Linked DNA regions of Homo sapiens: region 1 is linked to region 2. The links come from fine-mapping of genetic effects on gene expression. A gene starts in region 2. The other region holds a variant in brackets. All regions are shown on one strand. Distances are between the middles of the regions.

The links. PIP is the estimated chance that this variant, and not a neighbour inherited with it, causes the effect. A credible set is the group of variants that fine-mapping cannot tell apart.
Region 1: its variant is the best candidate, but not a certain one, in a credible set for the expression of FAM171B in substantia nigra (GTEx, PIP 0.72).

Annotation. Positions count from the first base shown.
Region 1 is chr2:186,954,967-186,959,360 of GRCh38, forward strand. No RefSeq gene overlaps it. Among named protein-coding and RNA genes, the nearest start is that of CALCRL-AS1, 46 kb to the right of the region's middle. The variant C/A (reference allele first, on the strand shown) is at 2,217.
Region 2 is chr2:186,691,816-186,696,209 of GRCh38, forward strand. FAM171B (family with sequence similarity 171 member B) reads left to right here and starts at 2,245. Exons shown (of 8, transcript NM_177454.4): 1 at 2,245-2,596. The coding sequence starts at 2,359. RefSeq lists a silencer at 2,049-2,408.

The DNA.
Region 1 (4,394 bases), 260 kb after region 2:
CTATGGGAGATTCAGTGGACTCACAGTTGCCCCTGCTGGTGTCCCAACATTGAAGGGCCTTAAACAGATTCACCCCATTTACCTGAGTTTGCAGGAATTTGAAAAGACTAAAGGCAAAGATGAAAATGAGAAATCTGACCTCGAATCACTGGGGCTAGTGGTCAGGCATATTAATCAGGACAAACACTGATGCAGGGGTCAGGTTCTCTTGGCCTGATCCTCAACAACACACCTGGGGCTTGTGCATATGTGTGAGGATAACGAACACGGAGTGGAGAAAAACTTCTGAGAGTTCTTCCCACAGGATCCCAATGCATTATGTTATCAAAACCTGTTAGTGAAGTCATAACTGGGTGACAGTTTGCTAGGGAGCATCTGGGGATATAAAGATTGATGAGATGAAGGTGAAAGTTTGGATGAAAACTGGAACATTAGAACGGACTTCATGTGAACTGCTTGTGTCTCCTCTACCTAAGTGTGTTATTAGATGGAGTCATGTCTGACTGGGAGCACTTCCCATTCCTAGTATTATAAAATCAAAGGTATGTAAGTTTGCCCTTCTGCAATCATTAATTGGGCATACTAAATGGGAACCTATAGAGTTGCCTGAGCCCACATAGCTTGTTAATTTGACACAGTGTCAGATGAATCCTAGTAGACAAAAAGAGAATACCACTTTAATTGCTGACATGTTAGAAGTTGGAGTGCTGATACTAACAAATTTTCTGTACAAATGTCCTGTGTGGCCCATGAAAAAGGGAAGTGGCTCATCAAGACTACAGTAGATTTTCCAGGCTTGAATAAAGTAGTCCTGGCCGGGCGTGGTGGCTCATGCCTGTAATCCCAGCACTTGGGGAGGCCAAGGTGGGCGGATCACCTGGTGTCAGGAGTTCAAGACCAGCCTGGCCAACATGGTGAAACTCTGCCACTACTAAAAATACAAAATTAGCCAGGCATGGTGGCATGTGCCTGTAATTCCAGCTACTCAGGAGGCTGAGGCAGTAAAATTGTTTGAACCTGGGAGGCAGAGATTGCAGAGAGCCAAGATTGTGCCACTGCACTCCAGCCTGGGCAACAAAGTGAGACTCCATCTCAAAACAAACAAACAAACAACACAAAAATAAGCTCGGCATGGTGGTGCACATCTGTAGCTACTCGGGAGGCTGGGGCAGGAGAATCGCTTGAACTCAAGAGGTGGAGGTTGCAGTGAGACGAGATCAGGCCATTGCACTCCAGCCTGGGCAACAGTTTGAGACTCCATCTCAAAAAAGTAAAAAATAAATAAATAAATAAAAATAAAGTAGTCCTGACTACAGCACCAGCAGTTCCTGATATGGTTTCAATCATGCAAAAAATACAATGTCTTGCAAATGTTTTTTCTTTATCACAATCTCGTACAAGAGTTAAACATGGTTTGTCTTTATGTGGGAAGGATCTCAGCTTACTACATTGTATTGCCACATGGTTATTTGAATTCACCAGTTTACTGCTGTGTCAATACGCTGCATTGCTAATGCCACAATCACATCAGAAACTGAAAAACAAGCCAGGATTGACTTAATGCAGTAGTGAACAGTCATCACTAACACAGGCTGGTTGACCAATCTAGCAAAGATCCCAGAGTCCATATCAATGGTGGAATTCTCAGGAATAACCTGGGCAGGAGCTATCACATCCCACAGGCAGCTAAACTAGACTCTCTTGTTATCTACTACTGGAACTCAGTGAGAAGCACAGGGTCGGGTGGGTTGTTTGGATTTGGAAGACACATTCTGCATCTGGAAAGAGTGCGAGCTCTTATCTATTAAGGCTGAAGAAAGGCTGTATTTGAATGGGAGCCATCACAATAGCAGTCTATGACTGAATTTCAAGAATTGATGTCTGGATATATATTGGGCCCTTATGGTCCACTCTGATATGATTTTGGAAGTTCAGTCAGTTCAATCAGCACTCTTTTTTTTTTTTTTTTTTTGAGACAGAGTTTCGCTCTTGTTGCCCAGGCTGGAGTGCAATGGTGCGCTCTTGGCTCACTGCAACTTCTGCCTCCTGGGTTCAAGTGATTCTCCTGCCTCAGCCCCCAAAGTAGCTGGGATTACAGACGCCCACCACCACATGGGCCAGGCTAATTTTTGTATTTTTAGTGGAGACAGGGTTTCACTATGTTAGCCAGGCTGGTCTTAAACTCCTGACCACAGGTGATTCACCAGCCTGAATCC[C/A]AAAGTGCTGGGATTACAGGCATGAACCACCTCGCTCAGCCTCAGTCAGCACTCTTATCTGCAGGCTTCACATCTCCTTGGTTCACGTTAACATTCCTAAAGTAGATGGTCAGCATCCTGTTTGGAAACCTCCCCACTCTAACCAACTGATGGTAAAACAAATTGAAGAGGTTGAGAACAAGTAAGCTCAGTAAGCTGAATTGCATGCTATTTTCCTTGCAGTGGTGGAAGAATTAAACAACAATTAGAGCCCTGTAGTCCAGGTGCATTCCAACTCATGGGCATTGGCCAACAGCTGGCCATGTGGTCAGGAAGAGGAACAATGGAAAACTGGATTGTTAGTGGGGTGTCCAGCTGGGCGCGGTGGCTCACGCCTGTAATCCCAGCACTTTGGGAGGCTGAGGCGGGTGGATCGCCTGATGTTGGGAGTTCAAGACCAACCTGACATGGAGAAACCGTGTCTCTATTAAAAATACAAAATTAGCCGGGCATGGTGGCGCATGCCTGTAATCCCAGCTATTTGGGAGGCTGAGGCAGGAGAATCACTTGAACCTGGGAGGCAGAGGTTGTGGTGAGCTGAGATCGCACCATTGCACTCCAGCCTGGGCAACAAGAGCAAAACTCTGTCTAGAAAAAAGAAAAAAGGGGGTGTCCATATGGAACATGGCCTTATGGAAATCACTATGGGAATTAAAGGGATGCATTAAATAGGACATATTAATGCCCATCAGAAGAACCTTTTTCCCAGACTGGAAAGTGATTGGAACCCCAAGTGGATATCATGGTACATCCAAGGTGGCCAACTGGGCCCATGAAATGAGTGGACATTGGGGGCAGCAGCAATGCAGAGAGGGGTGATCATAGATACATAGTCTTCTGCACCCCCAGAAGCATAAAATGCCAACAAGAACTGTCCTCACTGCCCTCCAACCCGGCTCACATCCCTACTGACTCCCCACCATGCCAGCTCACTCTCCCATTTGGTGTCCCTTTTGTGTAATATCTCTTTTCCCACTGTTGGAAACTCATTAGCCTGGCTAATATGGTGAAATCCCATACCTACTAAAAATACAAAAGTTAGCTGGGCATGGTAACAGGCACCTGTAGTCCCAGCTACTCTGGTGCATAGGTAGGAGAATCACTTGAACCTGGGAGGCAGAGGTTGCAGTGAGCCAAGATTGCACCACTGCACTCCAGCCTGGGCGACAGAGCAAGACTCCGTCTCAAAAAAAAAAAAAAAGCTTCTCTTGGCTGGGCATGGTGGCTCATGCCTGTACTCCCACCACTTTGGAGGCCAAGACAGTAGAACTTGAGGCCAGGAGTTCAAGACCAGCCTGGGCAACATAGTGAGATCTTGTCTCTTAGAAAAAAAAATTTTGTTTTTTGAAATGAAGTCAGCATATGCTGCCCAGGCTGGAGTGCAGTGGTGTGATGTCGGCTCACTGCAACCTCCGCCTCCCAGGTTGAAGCAATTCTCCTGCCTCAGCCTCCCTAGTAACTGGAACTACAGGCGCCCACCACCAAGCCTGGCTAATTTTTTTTTTTTTTTTTTTTTTTTAAGCAGAGACAGGGTTTCACCATATTGGCCAGGCTGGTCTTGAACTCCTGACCTTGTGATCCTCCCTCCTCGGTCTCCCAAAGTGCTGGGATTACAGGTGTGAGCCATCGCGCCAGGCCAGAAAAATTTTAAAAGTAGTCAAGTGCGCCATGTGCCTGTAATCCCAGCTACTCCAGAAGATGATGGGGGTAGGACCACTTGAGCCCCGGAGGTCAAGGCTGCAGTGAGCCATGATGGCACCACTGCACTCCGGAGAGAAAATATGTCTTAAAAAAAACAAAACAGGCCAGGCACGGTGGCTCATGTCTGTAAACTCAGCACTTTGGGAGGACGAGGTGGGCGGATCACAAGGTCAGGAGTTCAAGACCAGCCTGACCAACATGGTTAAACCCCGTCTCTACTAAAGATACAAAAATTAGCTGGCATGGTAGTGGGTGCCTGTAATCCCAGCTACTCGGGAGGCTGAGGCAAGAGAATTGCCTCAACCCGCGAGGTGGAGGTTGCAGTGAGCTGAGGTTGTGCTACTGCACTGCACCGGGAGACAGAGCAGGTCTTGGTGAAAAACAAAACAAAACAAAACAAAACAAAACAAAACAAAACAAAACAAAAAAACATTCTTC
Region 2 (4,394 bases):
GATCTCCAGTGTTTCCATTTGCTAAATAGGATAATGAGAGCTAATTTGTAGAGATGCTCTGAAGATATAATGAGATAATAGATGCAAAATACCTACTGTTATTTTATTTATGGTTATTGTGTCAGTCCATTTGCATTGCAGTAAACTTCGGGTGACATAAAGAAAAGCGGTTTACTTTAGGTCAGTTCTGCTGGCTGTACAACGCAAGTGTGGTGCTGGCATCTGCTCTGGTGAGACCTTAGAAAGCTTACAATCATGGTGGATGGTGAAAGGGAGACAGCGTGTCACATGACAGGAGAGGGAGCAAGCGAGAGAGAGAAGGGAGTTGCCACACTTTTAAACAACCAGATCTCTTGTGAGCTCAGAGCAAGAATTCAGTCATTACCATGAAGAGGGCACCAAGCCATTCATGAGGGATTCTCCTCTATGAACCAAAGACCTTCCACTAGGCCCCACCTCCAACATTGGAGGTCACATTTCAATATGAGATTTGGAAAGGACAAAACATCTAAACCATTAGTTATATATACACTATTTTCATTTGCTTAACCAAAAAATACTTTTCCAGTACTGAGAAGTTTGTTGTTTTCCAGCATATTGAAAACACTGGGAGGGACAAGGTAAGAATGATAAGGGTGGAAAAGGACAATGAACTACAATGGTAAATGGGGTGATGTCACAGCAGGTGACATTTATATTGCACTATGAGATGTCCCACAGTTACTCCAAATACAAAGAGACCACAACTGAACAAGGCAGGGCTCATTACTCTAGGCCAGTTAATGTTGATAAGGTCATAAGCAGCCACCTAAGATCTCAATTTGTCAATTTAGGTGTCACACTAGGCATATCTCCTCCTCTTCCAATTAACCGTATCTGTTTATTGTAGTCTTATATACTGTGTCTCCTACTCTTTTCTTCTCCTTTTCAGTTTCAATGACCTTTGGCATCTCCTATGGGTTTTGGCAAACACCTCTAAACTGGCATCTTCTCTTCCAATTTATCCCCCTTTAATCCATCTGCCATACTGAGAGCAAAGTGATCCTCCTAAAATGCACAACTGGTAGCAAGTTTCTTCCCTGATTAATTTCTTTCATTATCATCTACTGTGTGAATTTCAATTTCTGTATACAGCATCTAAGTTTATTACAGAAGTTAACAAATGTGAAGTACTTGAGCACACAGTAAGTACTATAGAAATGCTTGTTATTATTATTTTTTTAATGACCTGGTCTCCACTCTCCTTTTCAATCTAAAACACTGTCATTCCTCCATTAGAATAATTGCTCACACTTTTGCAAGCCCACTGTGCTTACACACATCTGGGCTTCACACACACACACACACACACACACACACACACACACACACTCTTCCACGTTCCTGATTTCTCCTGTGTGGAAGTCTTACTCTTTTTTATATTCTACCTCTCCTGGTGTTTCATAGCCCCTACATACACAAGATATTTTCTTCCAATTCTGAGACCTCTGGACTTGTATTGCTTTTCTGTTTGTAGCCACCACATTGGGTTCTAATTTGTTCCTGTGTTCCTCTCCCCTAATAGATGTTGAGCTCCTGGAATGCAGGGATTGTATTTTACTTATTCCAAGCACCTGAAGAAATGCTGGCACATGGTAAGCAACTAGTATTTAGTAAGATTTTTTTGAACAAATGAAAAGGATAGGCTAGAATTAGATAAAATGTAATTAAGAATATTTAATGATATGGAAAGAAATTCCCACTAGGGCAGAGAAAAGAAGTTTAGTCAAAATCTGGCGCGCTGCAGTTTAACTTCTAGCTAAGCAATGATGGCGGTGATGCAGCAAAGCCTATTTGTTTGAGATCCTGGCTTTTTGATCCGTTGGTGCCACCCACGCTATGTGCTGGATGGGGGTAATCAATATACCACCTTCTCTGCTACTTTGGGCTCAGGTGGAAGGAATTTTATTCCACTCTCTGCAAATCTTCCCGGTGCCTCAGTGGGAAGTGGACGCTGTGAGGGTCTACCAGCTCCCAGAAGGCCTCCCCTTTCTGTTTCCCCTAGGGCCCTCCACCCGGGCTGCAGCCCCAGCATCGCGTCCTCTCGGAGCAGCCTGGCCCCAGGTGGCTGCGGGGCGCGGGACCGCGGGCCCCGGCTCGCCCCTCCCCGCGCGTCACATGCGCGAGGATGCGAACTCCCCTTCCCTCCTCCTCCGCCCCCTCCGCCTCCCGGGCCTCTTCCTCCTGCCGGTGAGGGAGTGCTTGGCAGATTGCGCGAGGGGGAGCGAGCGAGCGGGCGCTGCCAGGAGCCCGCAGCCCTGGCGCCCGCCGCCGCCCGGAGCCCCGCAATATGCCGCCGCGGCCCTCTGGCTCTAGGCCATGGCGAGGCTCTGCCGGCGTGTCCCCTGCACCCTGCTTCTCGGCCTGGCCGTGGTGCTGCTGAAAGCGCGGCTGGTCCCCGCGGCCGCCAGAGCGGAACTCAGCCGCTCCGACCTCAGCCTCATCCAACAGCAGCAGCAGCAGCAGCAACAACAACAACAACAGCAAAAGCAGCTGGAGGAGGCTGAGGAGGAGAGGACAGAGGTGCCTGGGGCAACCTCCACCTTGACGGTTCCAGGTAGGTCCTGGCTGCCCAGCCCGGTCTTTCAGTCTCGGCCGGCGATCTCTTAGGGCCTCGCCGGCTTCCTCGCCCCTTCCCTATCCATTCCTATCCTCGTTCGTTCCTGTCACCATCCCTCCCGATCTCTCTCCCCAGACTGGCTGCCCAGCCTTTGGTCCCTTGATCTGGTGTCGGGAATCTGCCCTCCGGGTAATGAGCTTTCTGAGCAGCTCAGAGCACTGCGGTGGGTTGGAGAGGGGTCGGGAAGGCTGGGGGTGGGTGACTGCCTGGATTGATCTTTTTCTTTTCCCTCCCTTCTTCCTGAATTCTACCCTCTGCCCTGGGAATGACTGTAACACACACACACACACACACACACACACACACACACACACACACACCGTTCTTAAATCCCTTAAACATTTTGTTCTCTATCCTTTTCTCTCCTAGAGACTGAGAAATCTTGCCATGGACACCCACACACCCCTTTTCACCATTTCTCCATGCCTGCTATATTTAAATTTAGCCATGAAGAGAGAAATCTTTATATATTTTATTATTTATTTCTCTTTCTCTTTACCCCAGGAAGGGTTTAAGGGTTCATCTTATTGCAAAGAACTCTTTTAGTACAATAAGATGAAGCAAAACAAAACAGGAGTTTGTAATTGAAGGAAAGGGAAAAGGAGAGGGGGACACATAAGGTGAAGTCTGGAGTGGTGTTAGAACAGCAAAAGCCTATCCCTAGAGAGAGAAATCTCCTTACTTGTTAGTAGAACTTAAATGAGGCAGATTCTTGACACTGTTCAGTGAAGGTGTAGAAATACGGCTGTAGTATAGGTGGCTGTAACAGTTCCGCAGTTCCTCCCTCTTTCCCCCCATTAAAGCTCCATCGGTAAGCAAATAGCTAGATTATCCATGTATATTGCATCTCCCTACCCCGCAACCCACTTCGCTTCATGGCTGTAGATTCTTGTCTGCTATTTGGAAAGAAAAAAAGCCTCCAATTTTCTGGCACGAGGGCTTAGGTTTTGTGAAACCAAAGTGAATTTTATTATGACGTTTGTTTTTGTTTTAAAATCCTGCCTGGTAACACTATATGAGTGCTGAAAATGAGATTTGAAAGAGTGGAATCAGCATCACATTTTGTATTGCTTGCTCATCGTCAAAAAGCAGTACACAGGCATGCCAGCTGCGATTCATGACACAGCCAGGATGATTTAATTTATCAGAGTGCTCTGAGCATAGGATGAAATCACCAAAGTGTGCAGGAAAGCATGTGTTTCTGACACCCTCTTAAACCAATTAATAACACTCAAGTGTGGCTAAAAGTCTTGAAAGGTATACAGTGTATGGTGGTTTTCCTACCCAGCTTTTAATAACTGAAAGTGATAATATGGTTTGGGTGAGGCTGCTGTTAGACATACTGTTCGCTAAAGTTAAGGAAATTGGATATATCAGATTGATTGGCCTCATTAATAGAGATATTTCATAAATTCACTATGAAGCCGAAGTCTGGGAGAGTGTTGGTGGGTTTTATGGTTTGCAGTATATTTTTATTTCAATGGACCTTTCAGGAATATTAAATGAATTTTGACTACTGTAATATATATATATATGTTGTGATTAGGGTTATGAACTACTGCAATAATATGAAACCTGAATCCAGCATGCAAATTAAAATGTTTGCTTTCTGATATTTGTGAGGGAATATTCTGAAAAAGCTGATTGTCTGGGAAATTAGCAGTTTTTGTTTTATTTACCTATTAGATTGAGATAAAGGAACCACACTCTTCGATAGATCAAACTAGAACCTGAG